3 linked regions of the Homo sapiens genome follow. The protein of the gene in region 3 interacts with the protein of the main gene of each other region in a pairwise test. Each region holds a gene or a part of one and is shown on either strand. Other genes may lie near its edges. The genes, in order: STX8, CLCA1 and KCNMB1.

What was found.
Region 1: the proteins of KCNMB1 (region 3) and STX8 interact in binary tests that used the Homo sapiens proteins (3 or more experiments, as listed by UniProt).
Region 2: the proteins of KCNMB1 (region 3) and CLCA1 interact in a two-hybrid assay, tested with the Homo sapiens proteins (one study listed by BioGRID).

What each region holds. Positions count from the first base shown.
Region 1 is NC_000017.11:9,544,816-9,551,921, forward strand, and holds part of STX8 (syntaxin-8), read right to left. Parts: intron 468-7,106; coding exon 357-467; intron 1-356. UniProt on the Homo sapiens protein: Vesicle trafficking protein that functions in the early secretory pathway, possibly by mediating retrograde transport from cis-Golgi membranes to the ER.
Region 2 is NC_000001.11:86,464,463-86,472,007, reverse strand, and holds the start of CLCA1 (calcium-activated chloride channel regulator 1 precursor), read right to left. Parts: upstream 3,082-7,545; 5' UTR 3,037-3,081; coding exon 2,875-3,036; intron 1-2,874. UniProt on the Homo sapiens protein: May be involved in mediating calcium-activated chloride conductance. May play critical roles in goblet cell metaplasia, mucus hypersecretion, cystic fibrosis and AHR. May be involved in the regulation of mucus production and/or secretion by goblet cells.
Region 3 is NC_000005.10:170,386,353-170,394,343, forward strand, and holds the start of KCNMB1 (calcium-activated potassium channel subunit beta-1), read right to left. Parts: upstream 3,016-7,991; 5' UTR 2,907-3,015; intron 1-2,906. UniProt on the Homo sapiens protein: Regulatory subunit of the calcium activated potassium KCNMA1 (maxiK) channel. Modulates the calcium sensitivity and gating kinetics of KCNMA1, thereby contributing to KCNMA1 channel diversity.

The sequences.
Region 1 (7,106 bases), on a different chromosome or scaffold from region 3:
CCCCATCTCTACTAAAAATACAAAAAATTAGTCGGGCACGGTGGCGGTGGGCGCCTGTAATCCCAACTACTTGGGAGGCTGAGGCAGTAGAATGGTGGAAACCTGGGAGGTGGAGCTTGCAGAGAGCCAAGATCACGCCACTGCACTCCAGCCTGGGTGACAGAGCGAGACTCTGTCTCAAACAAACAAACAAAAATTAACGAAAACTAAATTGAGTAGAAAATTATAGTCAAACACCATAAATGAATAGAATAGATTTTGATTAATTCCTAAAGTAAGCCATTCAGGAAACAGCTGTAGTATCTGCAAAGAAGTCTTCGCCCACCAAGTAATCCCTGTAAATAAAAACATCCTACCTGATTAGATCTGGTTCGGCACCCTCATTCTTAAAGGATGCCAGAAGTAGTCTCTCTCGAGTTACAAGATCATCCAAGAGGTTCTGTCTTCGGTCCCCTTCAAGCTGTGTTCTGCAGATATCTTGTTAAGGTTCAATGGTGAATAAATGACCTCGTTTTAACTATTACATTATTAAGTTAGCTCTTCAAGTCAGTTGTGGCTTTTACAGACTGTAATCACTACTACCCAGAAGGGATGCGCACCACTCTTGCGTTTTTCCTGCTCTGACCTTCACCTTCACCAGGCCGTCAGGTAAAGGACCTTGGCAGGACCATCGCAGAGGCACTTATAAACACTGACGTGGATCATGACACAAGTTTTTCATTGAGAAATATACCAGGTAAATATTACTTTCCTCCCCGTGACCAAACTTATTTACTTATTTTTGAGACAGAGTCTCGCTCTGTCGCCCAGGCTGGAGTGCAATGGCGCGATCTCGGCCCACTGCAACCTCTGCCTCCCGGGTTCAAGCAGTTCTCCTGCCTCAGCCTCCCGAGTAGCTGGGCTTACAGACGTGCACCACCACAACCGGCTAAGTTTTGTATTTTTATTAGAGACGGGTTTTTGCCATGCTGGCCAGGCTGGTCTCGAACTCATGACCTCAGGTGATCTGCCTGCCTTGGCCTCCCAAAGTGCTGGAATTACAAGGCGTGAGTCACCACGCCCAGCCCCAGTGACCAAATTTAAATGACTTCTCCTGCCAATGGTGCAACCTGGCTCAGTGATTCCTTAGGTTTTGAGTTATATGTGTGTGTCAGTGTTCCAGGGCATTTTCCTACATATTAATACCCTAAGATGCTCTGTTTAAAAAAGTGGGGGCGCTGGGGGAGAGAAGTTCTCTATATTGCTCTCTTTCTTCCATGTTAATATCTATTAACACACCTAGGATATTTATAAAGTGCTACTTTATGCAACAGATTTGCTCTATAAATTGTTACCATCAGTTCACTATTTAAATACATTGCATGATTTGTAAAGAAAATTACAAAGAGAATCATTTTAATGTGTGAATCTAGCAAACACGCTAGACTAGGAGCCCCAGAGGCAGAGTTGTAGCCCTATTCCACTATCTATGCTCTTGAACCAGTTATTTCACCTTTTGGGATCTCTCTTTCTTTATATGTAACACTAAATAGTCTCTAACATCTTTTCCACAACAATTCATAAGTGATGGTTAAAAAAAAAAAACCAAACAACCATCCTTCTGGGAAATGTAGTCTTTGGAAAGAAACCTACAATTCACCAATAGGTGGACGAGAATGCGGCGCGTGCGCATGAAGCAAAAAGGGAAGTGGCGTCTGTCAACAACCGGCGCCACTTCCCTTGGACTAAGTACAAAGTTTTATATACTAGCTTTCTTGATGCAAACTACAAAAGTGGTTTTTTTTTTTTTTTTTTTTTTTTGGAGACGGAGCCTTGTTCTGTCTACAGGCTGGAGTGCAGTGGCGCGATCTCGGCTCACTGCAACCTCCGCCACCCGGGTTCAAGCGATTCTCCTGCCTCAGCCTCCTGAGTAGCTGGGACTACAGGCACGTGCCACCACGCGCAGCTAATTTTTTGTATTTTTGGTAGAGACAGGTTTTCACCATGTTGGCCAGGATGGTCTCGATCTCTTGACCTCATGATCCGTTCACCTCAGCCTCCCAAAGTGCTGGGATTACAGGTGTGAGCCAGTGCGCCCAGACACAAGTTTTTGTTTGTTTGTTTTTAGGCTGAACTGTGTCTATGTGTGTGGTATGTTAAGAAACACAGAAGGGCTGGACGCGGTGGCTCAACGCCTGTAATCCCAGCACTCTGGGAGGCTGAAGTGGGCGGATCACAAGGTCAAGAGATGGAAACCATCCTGGCAAACACGGTAAAACCCCGTCTCTACTAAAAATATAAAAACTAGCCAGGCGTGGTGGCGTGCGCCTGTAGTCCCAGCTACTCGGGAGGCTGAGGCAGGAAAATCGCTTGAACCCGGGAGGCGGAGGTTGCAGTGAGCCGAGATCGCGCCACTGCGCTCCAGCCTGGTGAAAGAGCGAGACTCTGTCTCAAAAAAAAAAAAAAAAAAAAGAAAAAAGAAACACAGTAAAGGATATGTTTGGAAACAACTTCTGCCATAAAATGAATGAGTGGAGAAAGCTAACAAACACTTTTAAAATATATCTGGCCAGGTGTGGTGGCTTACGCCTGTAATCCCAGCAGGTCAAGGCAGGTGGATCACGAGGTCAGGAGTTCGAGACCAGCCTGACCAATATGGTGAAACCCCATCTCTACTAAAAACACAAAAATTAGCTGGGCATGGTGGCGCACAATCGCAGCTACGCAGGAGGCTGAGGCAGGAGAATCACTTGAACCCGGGAGGCGGAGGTTGCAGTGAGCCGAGACTGTGCCACTGCACTCCAGCCTGGGTGACAGAGCAAGACTCCGTCTCAAAAAAAAAAAAGAAAAAAGAAAAGAAAAGAAAAGAAATACACACTAAAACAAGATACCACTTCCACCTATCAGATTAGGAAACTGAGAAGACAGTTTTGGAAAGGGACAAGGAACCAGACACTCTCATACATTCTTTCCTTTTCTTTTCTTTTCTTTTTTTTTTTTTTGTTTTGTTTTGTTAAGATGGAGTCTTGCTCTATCATCCCAGGCTGAAATGCAGTGTTGCAACCTTGGCTCACTGCAACCTCCACTACCTGGGTTCAAGCAATTCTCCTCTCAGCTCCCCAAGTAGCAGGGATTACAGGTGTCCACCACCACACCCAGCTAATTTTTGTGGGTTTTTTTGAGAGACAGGATTTCACCATGTTGGCCAGGCTGGTCTCAAACTCCTAATCTAAAGTGACCCTCCTGCCTCCCAAAGTGCTGGGATTACAAGCATGAGCCACTTCACCTGACCTTATACATTCTTTCTTTATTATTATTATTATTTTTTGAGACAGTGTCTCCCTCTGTCGCCCAGCCTGGAGTGCAGTGGCATGATCTTGGCTCACTGCAACCTCCAGCTCCAGAGTTTAAGCAATTCTCCTGCCTCAGCCTCCCAAGTAGCTGGGATTACATGCACATGCCACCATGCCCAGCTAATTTTTGTGTTTTCAGTAGAGATGGGGTTTCACCATGTTGTCCAGGCTGGTCTCGAACTCCTGACCTCAAGTGATCCACCCACCTCGGCCTCCCAAAGTGCTGGGATTACAGGCATGAGCCACCATACCCGGCCACCTCATACATTCTTGATAGGAATGCAAACAGGTTCAACCAACTGCTAGACTGCCTTCTAAATACCTAACAAAATATAAAAGGTACAGTCTTTCAACAGACATTTCTTCCTCAGATACAGTCCTACAAGGACTTAGAAGCAAGGATGTCCACTGAACCATTATTTATAATAGCCACATTGGAAATATCAATAAGTAACTAGTGTATGTAAACAATGGAATGTTTTGCAGCCTTAAAAAAAGAATAGGAAAGCTGTTTAGGGGGCTGATAATGATAATTAACATTTTTGAGCACTTACTAAGTGTTTACATGAATTATTTGACATGGAATAATCTACAAAATATAACATTAAACCAAAGGAGGGGAAAAAAACAGCAGCAGCAAGGAGCTAAACAGTGAGTAGTGTGCTCCCACTTTGTTAAAAAAAAATCCTAACTATATATGTGTGTATATACACACAGAAAATTTCTGATATATAAACATTGCCTCTAAGGAAGGACAACTGAGGATTAAGGGTATAAGAGAGACTGATGTTTCACTGAATATTGTTTCCTAATGTTTGTCTCTATCATCTGCTAATTAATAAAAACACAAGCTTCAGAACCATATGTATAATATAATCCCTTTATAGTCAAAGGAATTTTATGTTTACATATGCATATATTTCAAGCCTAGAAAAGTCTGAGATACTAGCTACCAACCATTAACACTTAACTATAAAGAATGAGATGAGACAGGATAGAATAAGGAAGAGAAAGAGGAGTCATTGGTAATAACTAATGAGAAATGTATCAGTAGAAAGTATAATATTTTTTGTAATAAAAACAATAAAGGTACATTTTAAAATCAGCAGATACTAGTTACAGATTTAAACTTACGTCAAGAAGGAGCTAACAAAGAACATCAGTTTCAGAAACAGTAAAACTTGATGACTATGTTTTGTAGATGAGTAACCAAAGAACAGAAACCCACACAGTTGATGCTAGAAGAGGCCTTAAAGATCCCAGTTCTCTTGTTTTGCTGACCAGAAATTAAGGGTGAGCATGGCTAAGTCACTTGCCTGGGTTAACAGCCATGCTAGGTGACAGCTCTTTCAACCCTAGCTCATGGCTTTTCCACCAAACATTCTGCAGACTTCTCCACCTTGAGATGCTGACTTAACTTTGCCACTTCTTAGAATCCTGATAAAAACAATACTGGGAGTACGAATTCAGAATATTCCCAGAGACTCTGTAAATCTGGAAAACAATCCAATTAGGAACATGCTGCCTCTTTGTTTTATATTTTAATCTACGGAGAGAACAGAGCATAAGGAGATGGGGAGGAGGGAGATGGAATGAGAATAAATTGATTAATGAACCATCTGCATAGCACCCTTGCTATGTAAGGGTTGTTATTAGTAAGAGGTCAAAGGATCATCCAGGAAACAATCTATACAGCATGTATGTGGACAGGTGCGTAGCAGTTGGGTAAAGTAGGGTAGTGGGGAAACAGTGTGCCTGAGTGATGCTAAGGACAAGTAGAAAGTAGGACACACAGGCCAAGCGCGGTGGCTCAAGCCTGTAATCCCAGCACTTTGGAAGGCTGAGGCAGGCGGATCATGAGGTCAGGAGTTCGAGACCAGCCTGGACAACACGGTGAAACCCCATCTGTACTAAAAAAATACAAAAATTAGCTGGGTGTGGTGGCACACGCCTGTAGTCCCAGCTACTCAGGAGGCTGAGGCAGGAGAATCGCTGGAACCCGGGAGGCAGAGGTTGCAGTGAGCCAAGATCGTGCCACTGCACTCCAGCCTGGGCAACAAAGTGAGACTCCATCTCAAAAAAAAAAAAAAGTAGTACAGCACACAGTCAGTGGCCAGTGCTGGGGAACCTCCTCTTCCACCAACCTGGTGAATAGCCAAGGAAGAAGATAAGAGAACAGACAGATAAAGAAAAGGAAGAGAAGAGCTAACTATCATAGTACTTTGTCCTTGGCTATGCTGATTGTACATGTAATTATAGCCAATTCATGGATATGTAAGGTTGTAAATAAAACTGGATCCCCTGTAGTCCCAGCTACTCGGGAGGCTAAGGCAGGAGAATGGCGTGAACCCGGGAGGTGGAGCTTGCAGTGAGCCAAGATCGTGCCACTGCACTCGAGCCTGGGTGACACAGCGAGACTCCATCTCAAAAAATAAATAAATAAAAATAAAAATAAAACTGGATCCTGATTTCATATTACTGATACCTACTACCAGCATGCATAAGTCCAGCTTCTCTGCTGTAGCCTGGTGAGCATTTGAACCACAGATGGAGCGGGGTAAATATGCAACTGGATCCACAGGTCACCCAATCCCACTCCAGCTCCTGGATTTTCTCTTATATTTGGTAGAAGGCTTAAGAATTTAGGCTGGGCACAGTCGCTCACACCTGTAATCCCAGCACTTTGGGATGTTGAGGTGGGTGAATCACCTGAGGTCAGGAGTTTGAGACCAGCCTGGCCAACATGGCAAAACCCCATCTCTACCAAAAACACAAAAATTAGCCAGGTGTAGTGGTGCACACCTGTAATCCCAGGTACTTGGGAGGCTGGGGTAGGAGAATCGCTTGAACCTGTGAGGCGGTGGTTGCAGTGAGCTGAGATCGCACCATTGTGCTCCAGACTGGGCAACAAGAGTGAAACTCCGTCTCAAAAAAAAATAGAATTTAGGTAAGCCTTATTTTGTGAAAGAGCTGCTCTGGCGAAGGAAGAAGTTTGCAGATAATTAATTCTCCATGCCAAAAAAGAAGAACTGCAAGGGAACAGTTTAAGGTTCTAGAGGTCAAAAGACTTTTCTGGCTTTCTTTTTTTAAGTCAACAAACTCTAATAAATATTTATGATGTACCAGGCCAAGTCCTTACCTTCCTCAAAGCACTGATCACATTTTGCAAGTACTATTTTAATACCATCATTGTTTGTGAGTTTTGACATAACCATCATGCATGATTAAAAACTCCACAAAGAAAGGATGACCTGTAAATTCTCAATGGTAGCTGAAATCTTTACAATAATGATAAAATAATCAATAGCAGCTAATCCTCAAGGAGGACTTAGTATATGTGAAGCACCCTGTATGCATATAATCTCATCCTTACACAACAATCCTTTACGCCAGGTGGACTTCTAGCATCCCATTCCACAAATGAGGCACAAAGAGGTTAAGTAACTTCCCCAGGGGTGTTGGTAACCACCTTTTATTCAACACCCACCATTATGGGGGGCTAGTCCTGTGAAGAAAAAAGATTTTCTTCAACTTGTACAATAACCTGGCAAAGTATGATTATTCCTACATTACAGATAATGAAACTAAGGTCCAGAAAAGCTGAACTGCTGTTTGGCCTTGGTAAGTGGCAGAGCTGGTCTTCAATCTCAGTTCTGTCTGCTTTCAGAGCCGATGTTGTTCCCACGATACCAATGGCACCTAGACATTCAGGTTTCGTGGACCAGTAATATGTCCAAAAAAACTAGGGGGGGGTGTAACTTATATAGAATTACC
Region 2 (7,545 bases), on a different chromosome or scaffold from region 3:
GGGGTCATTGCAGGAGCAAAGTCCTTGCGGGAACAGACCAGAGTGACTAGACTCCATTGCCTAGTGGGGGTCGTGTTAGGAGCAGAAATGCTTCACCATTTTATGGGGAAGCAGCACTTGGGTGTTAGTGCACGGGTAAGTCCTGCTGTGCCTCTTCCTAAGGGGTAAACTTAAAGAACTTATTTTACTTCTCTGAGCCTCAATTTCTCCCTTTCAAATAGTGATAATAATGGTTGCCTCTATTTTTTTAAGTGTTCTTAATGATTTACATTTTCTCCTTCTAAAACTCCCAGATTTTTAACACTCACTAGGAGAGTTTAATATTATGTCACTTTAAAAAATAAAATTAAAAAATGAGCCAAGATCACCAAAAACTTGAAAAGTAGGTATAAAACTTCATATATTAGAGTATTGTTTTACCATTTGACTTGTGAAATGTGAATTTCCAATGTCTCCCAGGAAGAATAAGTACCATGAAATGCTCTTGTCTTCCACATTGTAATAGAAACAATAATAAGGGATCTTTGTTTTGGCATCTGTTTCAGATTTTCAGAAAATGACCTCATATCCTAATACATATTTAGACTCTTAGGCTGAGAGAAGGTTGGGGGTGACAGTTTATAGAATGGGCTAGAAATTCCTTCAGGACAGGGACAGTATATTGACCACTGGACTTCTAGTACCTGACATAATTTAGATGCTCTGTAAATATTTGTTGAATGAATAAACAAACAAATGGATAAATAAAGTGGGTTTAGTAAATGGCAAAGTGGTATAGAACTGCCAAGACAGGCACAGTGCCTGGGGTGCTGAGCATTGCAGAGACTCCAAAATAACCCTACTGTGTACCTTCTGACGTGCGTGTGTGCGTGTATGTCTGCGTGTGTGCATGGGCGTGTGTGTGTGCACACGAGCTTGTGCGTGTGGTGTGTGTGTATGTATATTTGACGGGGGAAGAGAGAGTTTCTCTCTGACTCTCCCTTCCTCATCTTGTGACGTGTACTCCCCCTGCTAATATTAGCAAGAATGCAGTGGATGGAAGTGGTGCAGAGCGATTAACTGCTCTTGTAGGTGGGGAAATCTGGGGACTGTCCTGCTGAAGCAAATATTTTAAAAGCTGAGTTAGGGGCTTCTGTCCCCACAGGGGCACCAGGGGAGAGTCTCTCATCAGCAAGAAGGTTGTTGGAGTAGAGGGAGGAATGGTTGGGAAAGGTGGCCAAGCCCTCAACGAGGTCCCTCAACTCTGCAGATCTGGAACATCAAATAGGAAGGAGTTAGGGACTTTGAGCATTCTATTCACTAAAGTGTTCTTGTTACAGAGAAGGAAATGATGGAAGCCAACTTATCTCACCCCCAACTTTAGGATCCATACTGGAAAGACAATTTAATAATTGTAGCGAGAAGTACGTATCTCGGGAGGAAAACCTCCAAGGACAATGAAGTAGAAGCACTTTGAAAGCTCTAGTCACTATATACTGTAGATACAAATTACCACGGTCACTGAAGATGAATACGGCATCTACATTCTCCTTCTGGCATATTGCTGAACCCCACTGTCTAGCCAGAGACTGAAACACACTGGTCACATGTTTGCTGATGCCACTTCCAAATTTAGAAACAATCAAAAACTCACTCAACATTTTAGATGATTGAGAGATTCAAGAGGTCTGAATCTCCCTTTTACCACAGACAGCCTGATCCTCTTTGGGTTAAGTAGGTAAGCTTTATGGTGAGTGACACCCTCCACTCTGTTCCCTATCCCTATCCCCTACTGCTGCAATTCTCTAACCACACACTGTAGAGATGGTTTTCTTTCCAAACATTATCTTTCTATATTTGCCTCTGCTTAGAGCAGTGGATCTCTGGGGAAATCCCTCTGGGCCCTTGTTCTATTAATTTTCCATCTAGAGAGAGCCAATGACTATATCCACCATTTATTGAGCTCTTACTATGTACCAGGCACTATGCATGCATTTTTAAAGTTATTTTTTAAAGTTCTGAGATAAATTTAGATGAACAGAAGACATGCAAAGTATTGCACCGTATTCTTACATACTCCACCCAGCTTCCCTTTATATGCATGCATTTTAAACTTTGATCCTCACAAAATCTGATAAGGGAGATATTTATTATTATTATTCCCATTTTACAGACTAATACTGTTACTAGTACAGCACTGCCTCTGGATGTGTTACAGCCAGATTCCAGGGCGGTCTTTTATAAAGCATTTCCCTCTTAGTTTTAGCTGTTTGTTGTTGTACAAGACCTTCTTCAATGGTATAGATACCCCTGCCAGGACAGGAAGTCTTCTTCCTTTCCCTTCTGCTACATAAGAGGTAGCAAGAAATCTCTGAAAGGATCCCTTGAATTGGGACTGATAAAATGCAAGGTTTTCTCCCATCAGAAGGTCAGGGTTGTTCTTATATCAGAGATTTGCATCTGGGGCTCCTTTTAGGATCACAGGGAAGGGGGTTCCTATTAGGAGAATAAAAGGAGAGTCTGACTCGTGCCAAGGGTAAAATCAGGCAAAGGATCTGTGCATCTCACAATATCTGTCAAATGTAGCTGACTCTGCCTTACTATAGAACTAAATAATTTTCAGTGACATAATCCACAGCAGTACATATCAATTTATCATTTATCAGTTGCCAACAGTATATCACTCTGAGTTATGTGCATTGCATTCATTATCTTATCTGACACAAGAATCCTAATGGTTAACTTGTTATTATTTCCATTTTACAGATGAAGAAACTGAGACTTAGACATAAAAATACATGCCAGTGTCGTGCAGCTGGAATAGGGCACTCATGTTCTCTCTATCACAACATTATGCTATTTTTAAAAAAGTATGGATAATTACTATGAACTTACCTTTATTTGTTGAATGAGTGTTTCATCTTCTGGCACATTGGGGTCGATTGCAACGACAATGCCTTCATAGCCATTGTTGTTCAGCTGAATGAGTGAATTACTCAGGGCCCCTTCTAGAAGGTGAAGAATCAAGATGAACACAGAACTCTTAAATGGCCCCATTGCTGTACATCTCCCTGTGATTTCTCTCTTTGGAAAATGCGGGTTACGAAGGTGTCTTTCTTTACCATTATATATATACAGATATGAAAATATAGACACACGTTTCCAACTTATCGGAAGTGGTTTATCACAGGTCTTTAACCCCCTGACCTGATGTGTTTTACTATTGCTCTTGTCTTCAATAGGAGAATGATAACAATATCTTAGTCTCAAATTGCGTACTTGTAAATATTTCCATCTGCCTTCAGCTGTGCCAGATGCTGGGGTAAGGGTGGGGGAGCCCACATCCGGTTCCTTGGAAGCACTCACAGGTGACAAGCAGCTTGGCCGCTGATAGGTTTGTTTACTTCTTGGAAATGTTTACCAAGCCATGGACACCAACCCACCCAAAGCCCCCAACCCCCTCCTGCCCAGGAAAATCCAGACTGTTCTGCTTATTCAGTAAACATTTTGTAAGCCATATATTCAGTTATCCCTCATGGTGGTCTTTACCACAATGGTGGTTTTGTTTACCTTGACATAACCTCAACACCTCTTCATGCTCCCCTTAAACAAGAAAATATTCAATTATATTCCACATCCATTTGTACCAAAAGCATTAGCAAGTGATGTAGATATTATTGACTATTTTATAATGGAGAGTAAAGATAAAATGTATATCTTACTTTGCAAAGCATACTCCAAGTTCCTCATCAGATTTCTGCTTTCTCTATTGCATAGCTCCTACCAGTCAATAAAATTCCAATTAACATCATTAAATTATTTTGCTGAAACTAAATGTCCCTAGGAACATGAATTATGGGCTGTCAGTGGCTGTGTATATTCTTTCAATTTGCCAAACCTCAGGTGGAACCTCAAATTGGCCCCCCATTTTCTTGTATTGAAATACTTGAAATATCTCTTCGTTCATAAATTCATTTGGTCTTCAGATGGTGATAAGCATTAATTTCATCTTGTCCATATGAACTTTAAAGTAGTTTTTTCCAATTCTGTGAAGAAAGGCATTGGTAGCTTGATGGAGATGGCATTGAATCTGTAAATTACCTTGGGCAGTATGGCCATTTTCACGATATTGATTCTTCCTATCCATGAGCATGAAATGTTCTTCCATTTGTTTGTATCCTCTTTTATTTCCTTGAGCAGTGGTTTGTAGTTCTCCTTGAAGAGGTCCTTCACGTCCCTTGTAAGTTGGATTCCTAGGTATTTTATTCTCTTTGAAGCAATTGTGAATGGGAGTTCACTCATGATTTGGCTCTCTGTTTGTCTGTTGTTGGTGTATAAGAATGCTTGTGATTTTTGTACATTGATTTTGTATCCTGAGACTTTGCTGAAGTTGCTTATCAGCTTAAGGAGATTTTGGGCTGAGACAATGGGGTTTTCTAGATATACAATCATGTCATCTGCAAACAGGGACAATTTGACTTCCTCTTTTCCTAATTGAATACCCTTTATATCTAGCATAATCTTAAGCAGTTAAAAGGGAAACACTGAAATAGAGTGGAAATGCTCAATTATAATGTGGTTGTCCAGATGATCCAAAATATGCTTTTATATCAAAATACATATACATTTATTATTCATACAAAATTTAAAAATGTAGATTCCAAGATATCTCAGACCCCAAATGTATGTGTCTTTGCCTGGGTTCCCTAAAAAACAGAGCCTAAGGCAGGCATATGTGCTAAGAGTTTGAGAGTTTAATCCCAGAGCAGTGAGAATGAGGGAATGGGGAAATGAGTCAGGGAAGGCTGGGAAGCAACTAAAGGAGGAGCATTACTAAGCCCTGCAATGGAGACACCCAGCAGGCCAGCCCACAGGCGCCCTTGCCTTCCTGTGTGGGTTGTCTCCTAAGGGGCTGTGCAAAGAAACCACGCCTTGGAGCAGCCCTTTGGAGAGAGGAAGGAAAAGCGTTTGGCTCCTTCTCATCTTCTACAGGTGATCATCTCCCCCCAGACTTCCTGGCTGTGTCATCCAGCCCTTTCGGCAGTCGCTTAGAAAGAGAGACCCCCATGCCTTGTGGTATGTGAGGAGCCAGGGGTTACAAGAGGTGGCAGCTTGACCTCAGGCAGTGGAACTGCTTGGACCTGCAAGGAGTGGATAGTGACTGAGGTGGAGCAAATGACTGAGTGCCCGGTAGACAGATGGAACCAAGCAAATCTGAGGAGGTTCAATAAGAAGAGTCTGATACAGTTCACTCTGAGCTGCTCAGATTCACTCTAGTACTTTCATCATATCAAGCTCCAATATTATAATGTAGGATTTGTGTTTCTGTGTGTGTGAGCACTAGCTGTCTCACTTTTCCCCTGAGAGAAGGTACAAGTTTAATCATTTACAGAATCTCCTTCAAAGTGGTGGTCAATTGCAATCTGCTCAAGTGCATAAGGCAAGAAGGTTATTGAAATAAATTGCAATGCCTGCTGTTACAGCTGGTCTCAAGGCTTTTATAATCTCCCTCCTTTATCACCTATTTCCCTCACTTTTACTCAGCATTTTGGTTGATCTGTATTGTTTGTTCTCTTGTTGGGGTAATCCCACCCTTCATCCCTGAGTGGGGTCTTTAGTTGTCCTGCCCTTGTTGGCTGCAGCTGCTGCATTTCCCTATGACAGAGGTCATCTGGTGTGACAGACTCAGTTTAAGTGCTCTCCAAATTTGCTTGGCATTCCCTGCAAGCTGGGTCTTGGCTGCTTGCTCAGTGGAGAGTCCTGGCTGCTGCTAAAATTCACACATCTCCTAATACCAGTGTTTCTTCTTAGCTTTCCCCAGGAAGAGGGCCTAGTTTAGCATGGCCTTCACTGTGCAGATTGTGGGGGCAGCTCCTCCATTCTCTCCCGTTCCCAAGTCTGGATTGAATGGATGTGTGGAGGCTTTTGGCTCAGATAAATCACTGCACCATGGTACTGGGATCTGGCTTTGTCAGAGGCAGCCCAAATGGGCCAAATAACAGAAACCAGAGATGCAGGGAGTTAGCACCCTAAGGGACAACCTTTCACCAAAGAATATTTCCAGCATTCTAGAAGTTTCCTTTGCATTCCCTTCCAGTAAATCCCCCCAAAAGATAATTGCTATTCTGACTTCTATGCCACATAGGTTAATTTTGCCTGTTTTTGAACTTCATATAAACAGAAATATGCTGTATGTACTCTTGCATTTCGCTATTGTGACATAACATTTTCTATATGAGATTCAGCCAAGTTGTTGAATGTAGCAGTAATATGTTCTTTTTCCATTCCATTCCACTGTAAAAAATACTGCAATTTACTTACCACCCACTCTTGATGAACATTTGGACTATTTCCAGTTTGGGACTATTATGAATGAAGATGCCATAGATGTAAGCATTGATTTCAGTTGCAAATATACAAAGAGTGACATTGCTGGGTGACAGGGTATACATCTATCTAGTGACAAAGACTCCCTCCTTTGACCAAAACTTAAGTCAGGATCCTGAGTCTTCTCTGACTAGGTCTGACCTTGGGCTTCCCTCTCTGTCCTTGCAGAATCCAGTTTGAGCAAGAATCCTGCTAAGTCAGTTTAGGGAAAATCCCCACGTTTGGTATCTGACCATTCTCAGCATCTTTCCACCATGGCCTGCCTTCAGCAATAACCCTATCAAGTCAGTTTAGCCAGACATTCCTTATCCTTGATGTTTCCTCATAGGCATTTTTCATCCACTGACCCCACCCTTCTCCTTGGTTATAAATTCCCACTTGTCCTTATTGGAGTTGGAGTTAATCTACTTTCTCTCCCCAACTGCAAGACCTCCTTGCAATGGTCCTTGTACCTATCACCATGCCTCCCACCCCTTACCATCTTTAACAAGTGTTTGCATGAAGTTTTTCTTTGATACTAGATTATGTTGATCTCCCAAATACTTTTCAAGTGGTTGTACAAGTTATTCCACATTTCCACCAGTACATTGTACTGTCAGTCTTTCTAACTATCCATTTTCTTGGGAGTGTAGTCATATCGTTCTGTGGTTTTGATTTGCATTTTCCCTAATGGCTAATGTTGTTAAAGACCTTTTTATATACATATTGGTCTTTTGTGAAGTATCTCTTCAAGTTTTTTTTTTTGCACAATTTTTAATTAAATTGTCTTTTCTTATTGATTTATGGGAGTTCTTTATATGTTCTGGATACTGAGTCTTTTGTATTGAAAGATATATTGAAAATATTTTCTCCTAGTTTGTAGCTTGCCTTAATAGTATCATTAGATGAATAGAGATTTTTAATTTTAGTACAGTCCAATTTAATCTTTTATGTATAATGTTTTTGTGTCATATTTAAGACAGCTTTCCCAAATTCATGAAGATATTATACAATATATGATTCTAGAAGCCTTGCTGCTTGACCTTTAACATTTAGGTATACTGATTGATCTCAAAATATTTTTGTGTATGGTGTGAGGAAAGGTTCAAGGTTTTTGTTTTGTTTTGTTTTCCTCTGTGATAGCCAGTAAGTTGAGAGTATTTATTGAAAAGACCATAATTTCCCCTACTGAATTACAGT
Region 3 (7,991 bases):
GCTCATCCCCCACGGCCACTGCAGGGAGTGCAGCCTGCAGACACCTTGGTGATTTTGGACTTCTGGTGAAATTTCTGTCGTTTGAGGCCGTCAGGTTTATGATCATTTGCTACAACAGTCATAGGTCCCATGCGGTGAGCGAGCAGTACATGTGCATCATCCATGCACCTCCTTCCACGGCACTTATCTCACAGGGATACTTGGAGTATTTCTGCCCAGAAACAGTTCTGTGGCAGGGCTAGCTGGGCCGGGCACAGGCAGGGAAAGGAGAGGAGGGCCCCAGAAGGCAGCTGCAGGTTGTCAGGAGAGGCAGGAGGTTTACCATATTCCGGTGTTTTTTTTTTTTGTAAGGAACATTCCCCTACTTCAAGCAAAGAAAGAAGAAAGAAGGCATCATGGTGGCCTCAGCGACTGCTTTCTTATTTCAGGGCTTGAAGCCACCTGGGACAAAGCAGAATGGGCACATTCTGCTGGTGGTTGCTTTCCTTCTCTCCTCTTTCTTTAGGCAGCAACTCCTTGTTTTTCCCCTGGACATTGACTCCACCCCAATGCAAGCAAAGATTCCACCCTCCCCTGCTAGGCTCCTGATCGCTCCCCCAGGAGTGTGAGTCTTGACAAAGACTTCAAGAAACAGCCCCTCAATCTATGCCGCCTGGAGCCACAGAGATGCCCAGCCATGGTCCCCGCGTGATTTCCCATGGTTCCGCAAGCTGTCCTAGAGCCTCTGGTAAATTTATTTGCTGTTGTTTTTATTTGTTTAAAGTAACCAGAGTCCATTTCTACCAAAAATACCAGGAAGCTATCAATGTAATCCTCCATTTTAGGGGAAATTTTAGGGGAATTTAGGGGAAATTTTAGCCAGATATCAGGGGGACTTTATTCTCCTTGCCAGGTCCCTAAAGTAATAAACATATTATGGTTTTTGTTTGTTTAATTAGCCAGTGTCCGGGTGACAGGCCTTAGTCCAAAGAGATTTTCTGCAAAGTGCTCTATTTTCTGCTCAGGCGTCTCTTAACTACTAGACTGTTTCAAATATTCAGAGATTCTTGACTCCCTCCCCTTAGCCAGGCTGCCCTCATACCCGGGCATCTCCGCTAAAGGGAAGAGACCAGGGTCAGGCACCACGGATACCCATCACACCTTCCCAGTGAGCTGGTCCACCTCCCCTATCGATCGGCAGAGGTGACATCCAATGACAACTTTTTCTCCTTTATTTGGCACCAGGAGGTGAGTTTCTCCTGCATTCTAATGGAGACATTATAAAAGCACAAGCAAGCAGAAATTGCCCCCGACAAAGAGAGATGTTTTATTCAACTCTTTTTATTCAATCCTTTTCCTCCTGTTCTGTGATCTTGTGGGAATGGGAGAGCCCATGCCTTTTTCTACCTGGCGTCAGTTGAACAAGACTCTCCATGTATTCACAGGTAAAGCAACAGAATCACCTGGAGGTAAGCTAAAAGCCCCAACAGCCTGCTTCCCCAGGACCTGCAAGGGTCACTGGCACTTGGCCCCACCCCAGATACTGTGAGACATAAATCATTTGAAGCCAATGGGAAATCCCATCTTGGAAGCCTAGGGCTGAGTGCCCACAACAAAGCCATTTCTCTCCTGGGGGAACTGGATCGCACCTGTGGGGGCTTCCTGTGGCTCCTTCCTGGCTAATCAGCCCCCCCCAGCGCCCAGGGCCATGGCCTCCTCTGCTATTTGGCTTCTAGTGCCCTCTCAGGCCCCTGGGCACTCCTGAGGCTGGTGAAGGCAGGAACCTGGTTTTACCAGTTTTAGGAGCTCAGAAGGAAAGGAAAGGAGAGGCTTCCCTGTCACAGAGAAGTCTGGAAACTTGGCTTATTCAGGTCTGACCCGTCTCTAATGGTCTGATGAGATTGTTGCCTGCACTGAGTGAGTTTATAGAGTCATGATAAATCCTCCTAAGACCATGCGTGGGGTTCAGTGTAGATATGACTTCAGCAAGAAGTTAGTATTCAGCATCCAAAGGGAGAACCTTTGGCGGGAGGAAGGATGGGAACTGTCAATATCCCCCAAGGGACAGAAAGAAAAGGAAGAAGTGGGTTTCAGCTATCATAGGAGGGATTTCAGTTAGACTGTAAGAAGAACTTCCCAGTTTTGAGCATTTCTAAATATCTCTGAAGTTCCAGGATATATCTTCCCATTTAGAAAGGTCACTTGAGATCTGGGATAGATTCAGAGAAGATGGAGAAGGACAAAGGAAGGCAGGACTTTGGAGTGTCCTGGGTGACCTGATAGCTGGGTCGACATCCTTTTCCTTAGAAGGACAAGGAATAGAGTACATTGTTGAACAGTTTGGTGGGGTGTGGACAGGGCGATTCTGAGGTCCTCAGACATGGAATCAAATCCTGGCTCTGCCACTTACACTTAGCAACCACATGACTGTGAAACGAGAACCATGGTACCTGCCTCAGAGAGTTCAGCTAAAGATCAAATGCCATATTGAGTATCAGACATGTATCATAGCACCTAGCCCCAAATCAGCCCCCAGTAAATATTAGCTATTACTACTAACGAAGGAAACCCTGAAAGTTTGGAGCAGAAGTCTGGACCCCTCTTGATGAATCTATTTTTGTCCCACCTCTCTACCGGTGACAAGTGCCAGCATTGGTGTTAATCTCCAGGCTGCAGCCTTCTGGCCACTCTGAGAACTGGGACCTAGAGGGCCAGGGCGCTTACTACCAGAGTAACCTGGCCACTGTGCCACCCTCCCCACTGGCCACCAGACCACGGGCCCTCCATCCAGAAGGACAGCCCCGAGAGGAAGGGAGTCCTCCTGCCTGCCTCCCTCCCTGCCCCGTGGCAGGCTGCTTTCCCCTGTCTCCCTCCAGCCCGGTCTTCAGAGAAATCACTTCCCAAGTGCTTTCAGGCCCGGTACTCACAGTCTTCCCGGCGTCCTGTGGGTCTTGAGCAGCAGACAGTTTCTTTCTGCCTGGACCCCCGCCCCCACCCCAAAAGAGGCCACAGAGCTTCAGCAGGAAGTTTGGCCTCCCCGCCCGTCTCCAGGGAAGCAGCTTTTGGTCCCCATCTGGGGCAAGCCTCCATGCCCAAACATGGTCAAGTCTGAGCACACAGCCTGGAGACACAGACTCGGAGAGCAGGTACCCAGCCCTGAGGAAGGCAGCTGTTACCCAAGCCCTGCACCTCCATCTTCCCAGAGTCTCGTGGGAAACAGATTTCAAACAACAACAGACAGCAAGACTGAGAAACTACGAAAGATCAGCCTGGTATATTTGGAAATATTTCTTCTTCTCTCTGTCTCTGTGGGCTGGCAAAGATGCCAGAAATAGGAAATGATTCTCCTTTTGTTGGCATGAGGAAGGGTGGAGTTGGGCTGGAGGGGTTGGGCTTGTCACTAGTCCCTGGCATATCCACGCTGGAGCAGCTACAGCTCCCTGCCTTTGGCACTTACGTGCTGTGTGACCCTGAGCAAGTTATGGCACCTCTCTGGGCCTCAGTTTCCTTTTTTGTTTTTGGTTTTACTCCCAAACTTATCGTTAAATGACCTCAGTTTTCTCACTTGTGTTACTGGCATTTTTAAAACCTACTTTGCTTTAGGGTAGTGATGGGAGTTAGAGACGGTGGGGATTTATGGCAAGGGGAGAGAACTGACTTTTTAAGGACCAACTGAGCTGAAGCTGGGAGTAGTGAGAGCTCCACAACTGCTTCCAACCAGGTCCAGGGACAGTCTGCTCACCAGGGGCCCTCCCAGAGACCGCGAAAGTACAGAGATTTCTTCCTAGCAATAAGACAAGTGAATGTCAGCATTTGCAGGCAAAAAACATGCTTTTAGATCTCTGCTTCTTCATCTGTAAAGTGGAAGTAAGGATTAAAAATCAGCAACAAAGGGCAGGCACAGTGGCCCACGCCCATAATCCCAGCACTTTGGGATGCCAAGGTAGATGGATTGCTCAAGCCCAGGAGTTTGAGACCATCCTGGGCAACATGGCGAAACCCCATCTCTACTAAAAATACAAAAATTAGTCGGGCATAGTGGTGCATGCCTGTGGTCCCAGCTACTTGGGAGGCTGAGGCAGGAGAATCGCTTGAACCTGGGAGGCGGAGGTTGCAGTGAGTCAAGATTGTGCCACTGCACTCTAGCCTGAACAGAGCGAGACCCCGTCTCAAAAAAAAAAAACAAATATATATATATATATATATATTTTCAACAAAACAACAAAAACAATCCCAGATATTGGGGCTTTCCTAAGTATCAGGCGTGGTGGTAGAAGGCAGCTTATCTCCACCCTTCACTTGACCCAAGAATCAAAGAACCTGAAACTGAGACTTGGAGGCTTGAAGTCACTGGTGCAACCCTAGGGGCCAGAACTAGATTCGAAGCTGGCCCTTCCAGATGGCACAGCTTGGTCTGTCTCTGATGACCCTGGGGCTGCTCTGAGACATTAAAAATCACCTCGATCATACAGTAAGCTGCCACCTGAGGCTCTGGAGGTCACCCTGAGTTTCCCCAGCCCCCAGGGAGGTGGGTGCAGCCTGGCCTTCCCTGCTGAGCGAGCTCACCACCTTCCTCCCTCCTGCCTCCAGCAGGCGCGAAATGAAGGCAGCCACTCAGGCCTCCCTGACACACTCTCAGGCGGTGAGTGCCCTTCTCCACCCCTTTCCTAATTGAATCTTATTAACAGGAGACTACAGTGTCTGTTTAATGGGCACCATAGCACCAGAGGGTCTAAGACCAGCTTCAGACCTTGCAGGCAGATTGACAGAGGGATGTAGGATCTGGAATTCAATCTCAGAAGAGCAATTTTCCAAGGATGATCCTCTGTCCACTCAGAAGCAGGAAAAGTCCTCCTGGGGCTAATCCAGAAATGCCAGGCCCCCCTCCTGCTTCCCTGGGGGAGAGATACACAGTGCAACAGGCTGCCATTTATGAGTATAACCGAAGGGCTCCTTGCTCGTGATACTCTGAATAAGTTATTAAGGGCTACATATTATTTGGAAATCATAAACAAACTTTAGCATTCTTCCCAAGGGAAGGTGGGAACAAACAGGGAAGGGGGGCCGTGGGGTCTTCTGCTCCCCCTAAATGAGCCACAACCAAAAGGCATTGACAAGCCCTGTCCTCGAGGGTTTGTGGGTGAAAACCCAGGTCCTTTGCTGGCTGCGGGGTTGTGTGTGACAGATGGCTACAGGTGGAGGGCAAGAAAATAACAATGCTGCAACAATAAATATTGACGGTTTGCATTAGTACGGGGTGTCAGAGATCACAAAATATCTTCTCTGACTCTTCCAACAGCTTCTTAAGGTACTAGCACAATAGGCTCACAATAGACCACTGAGGTGGAGATTTTTCTACCCATTTGATAGAGGGAGTAACTGAGCCTCAGAGAGGTGAAATAAATTGCCCAAGCAAGTTACTTTGCCTCTCTAAGCTTCAGTTTGTCTGTCTCTAAAATAGAGATAATTATACCTAGCCCCTCAGTGTTTTTGAGGAATGAGAGATCACCTAAGCTACCTGACACATAGTATGGAGATTGTCCTTTCCAAAGATGGTCACACCAAATACTTCCCATTCCATGTGCCCTTTTCACAGTGTGGCATCAACACTCCACCATCAAGAGGGGCATTGATGTCTCTTCCCCTTCACCCTGGGTGGAGCTTCGTAAGGGCCTCAATAGTAGAATATGGTAGAAGGACACAGCACGATGTTCAAGGCTAAGTCATAGACGGGGGCTCGAGTTCCCCCCACACGCTCTCGGGACATGTACCTGGGAACCAGCCACCATGTTGTAGGAAGCCGAGGCCCCGTGCTCCAGCTGACAGCCTCAGCTCAGATCTCAGCCAACAGCTAGCAAATCTCACCGGGCATGGGAGAGAACAAGCCTGCAGACAGTTCCAGCCCCCAGCCTGCCAGCCTCCCAGCTGAGGCCTCAGAGAATGTGGAGCAGAGACAGCCCACCTGCTCTGTGCTCTCTCTGAATTCCAGAGCCACAAAATCCACGAGAAGAAAAAAACTAATGTTTCATGCCCCTGCGTTTTGGGGTAATTTGTTATGCAGTCATAGTAACTGGAACACACTTGCAAGTGATTTCAAAGGGGGACTGTTACAGTTGCTGGTGATAGTGGTAGGATTAAACCAGTGAGAATTAAAACACCTGAGATTGCTATATGGAGTGTTACAGGAGAGTTTAGAAATGCTTTATCTAGGTAGGGCATGGTGGCTCATGCCTGTAATCCTAGCACTTTTCGAGACCAAGGCAGGCGGTTCATTTGAGGCCAGTAGTTCGAGACCAGCCTGGCCAACATGGCGAAACCCCGTTTCTACTAAAAATACAAAAATTAGCTGGGCACGATGGCAGGTGCCTATAATCCCAGCTATTCTGGGAAGCCGAGGCATGAAAATCACTTGAATCCAGGAGGCGGAGGTCGCAGTGAGCTGAGATTGAGCCACTGTACTCCAGCCTGGGCGACAGAGTGAGACTCCATCTAAACCAAAACAAACAAACAAAAAAAGTGCTTTATCTACTCTTAGGTCACACACTATGGCACAAATGGAATAGAAGGGCAGTGATATGGGAGGGTATTTTTGTTTATGAAGCACCTACTATGTACCAGGGAATGACCACATAGATATGCAATACATACACATACACATACACATGGACATTCCTCTCCACAATCCCCCACAAAAGGCCTTGTTCTTTCTGTAAAAGCACAAGGCAAAGTGATTTTCCCAAGGTCACGCCCCTAGCGTGTGATGTGATGGAGCCTGGAGTGCACCTGTGCCCGCTGACTCCACAGCCCGTCCCTGCCCCTCTGTCACCCCATGACTCCCTTGGGAGCAGTTTTCAAGAGACCCCAGGTTTCTTCATGATGTCTGCTTCCACTGCTTTCCAGACACCCTCAGCTCAGTCTGTACCCCTCTCTGGATTATGCACCTGCTTGTTTATTTAAGTCTTTCTGAATCAATATCTCCTCTCTGCTGACACTTGGGATAATAAGTCCCATAAATCAAATTGGCAACTGAGTCTTGAGCCCCTGTGTGTGCCTCTCTGAGTGCTGCAGGGATGGGTGTTAGTCACTCTCAGTCCTAGCGAAGCTGTGCGTTCACAGACATCCCAGCACTTGCTATGCAGAGGCTCTGGATACACCACTGTGCCGAGGTGACTCAGACACGGTCCCTTCACTGCAGAAAAGCGATGCCAGATTTCCTCAACTACAAAAATACAGAACAGAAAGTGAAAGATGTGTTTTAAATGAGAGACAGTAATAAAAGGCAGAGGAAATAACGGTGGGAGGTTTTTTAGTAGAGTTGAGATGACAAAGTATAACAACAGCAAAAGTAAATGCCGATATTACAATTAAATGGTCACACAACAAGACACGACAAAAAACATGGTAAAGTTGTTCCCTGCTGTGTAGGGTGATACTCACTCCTTTTTCCTCTGACTCTTTTCACCATATTTTCCCTTGGCCTGATTTTTCTTCCTTTATCCTGCCATGCTGTTAACATAATTGTAAGCACCTTGAAAATCCTCTTTGAGACAAAGAGGAGCATAAATAAATAAACAGCCCTGCTGTCTGTCTGTGTGGTAAGGTTGGTTTTTTTAAAAAAATGCTTTTTCCTTAGTGCAAATCATCCCAGCTCTGTGGGAAAGTGGCATGATGTGGAAGTGCAGGGAGAAGATGAGGTACAGTGTTAGCCTCACTGCTCAGAGAGAGTTGCTGTAAGAGTGGTGGTGGCCTTTTCAACACACATAAAGGAAGCATGTGCCCTCTCCTTCCATGGCACATGTCTCCTCTGTCCTTGCCTCCTGGCCAGCTCTTCCTCTTCCACAGGACTCCCCGCTGGGGCCTTCCCTCGCCCCCAGCCCCTTAGCCACTCTCCGCGCCTCCTGGGCCAGGCGGAAGCTCTGCTTCCGCATGCTGGGAGCACCGCATGCCTCTTCTGCAGAACACTTCCTCCGCCTGTAATTTAACATTTATTCATGTGCATCCTCCATTAACAT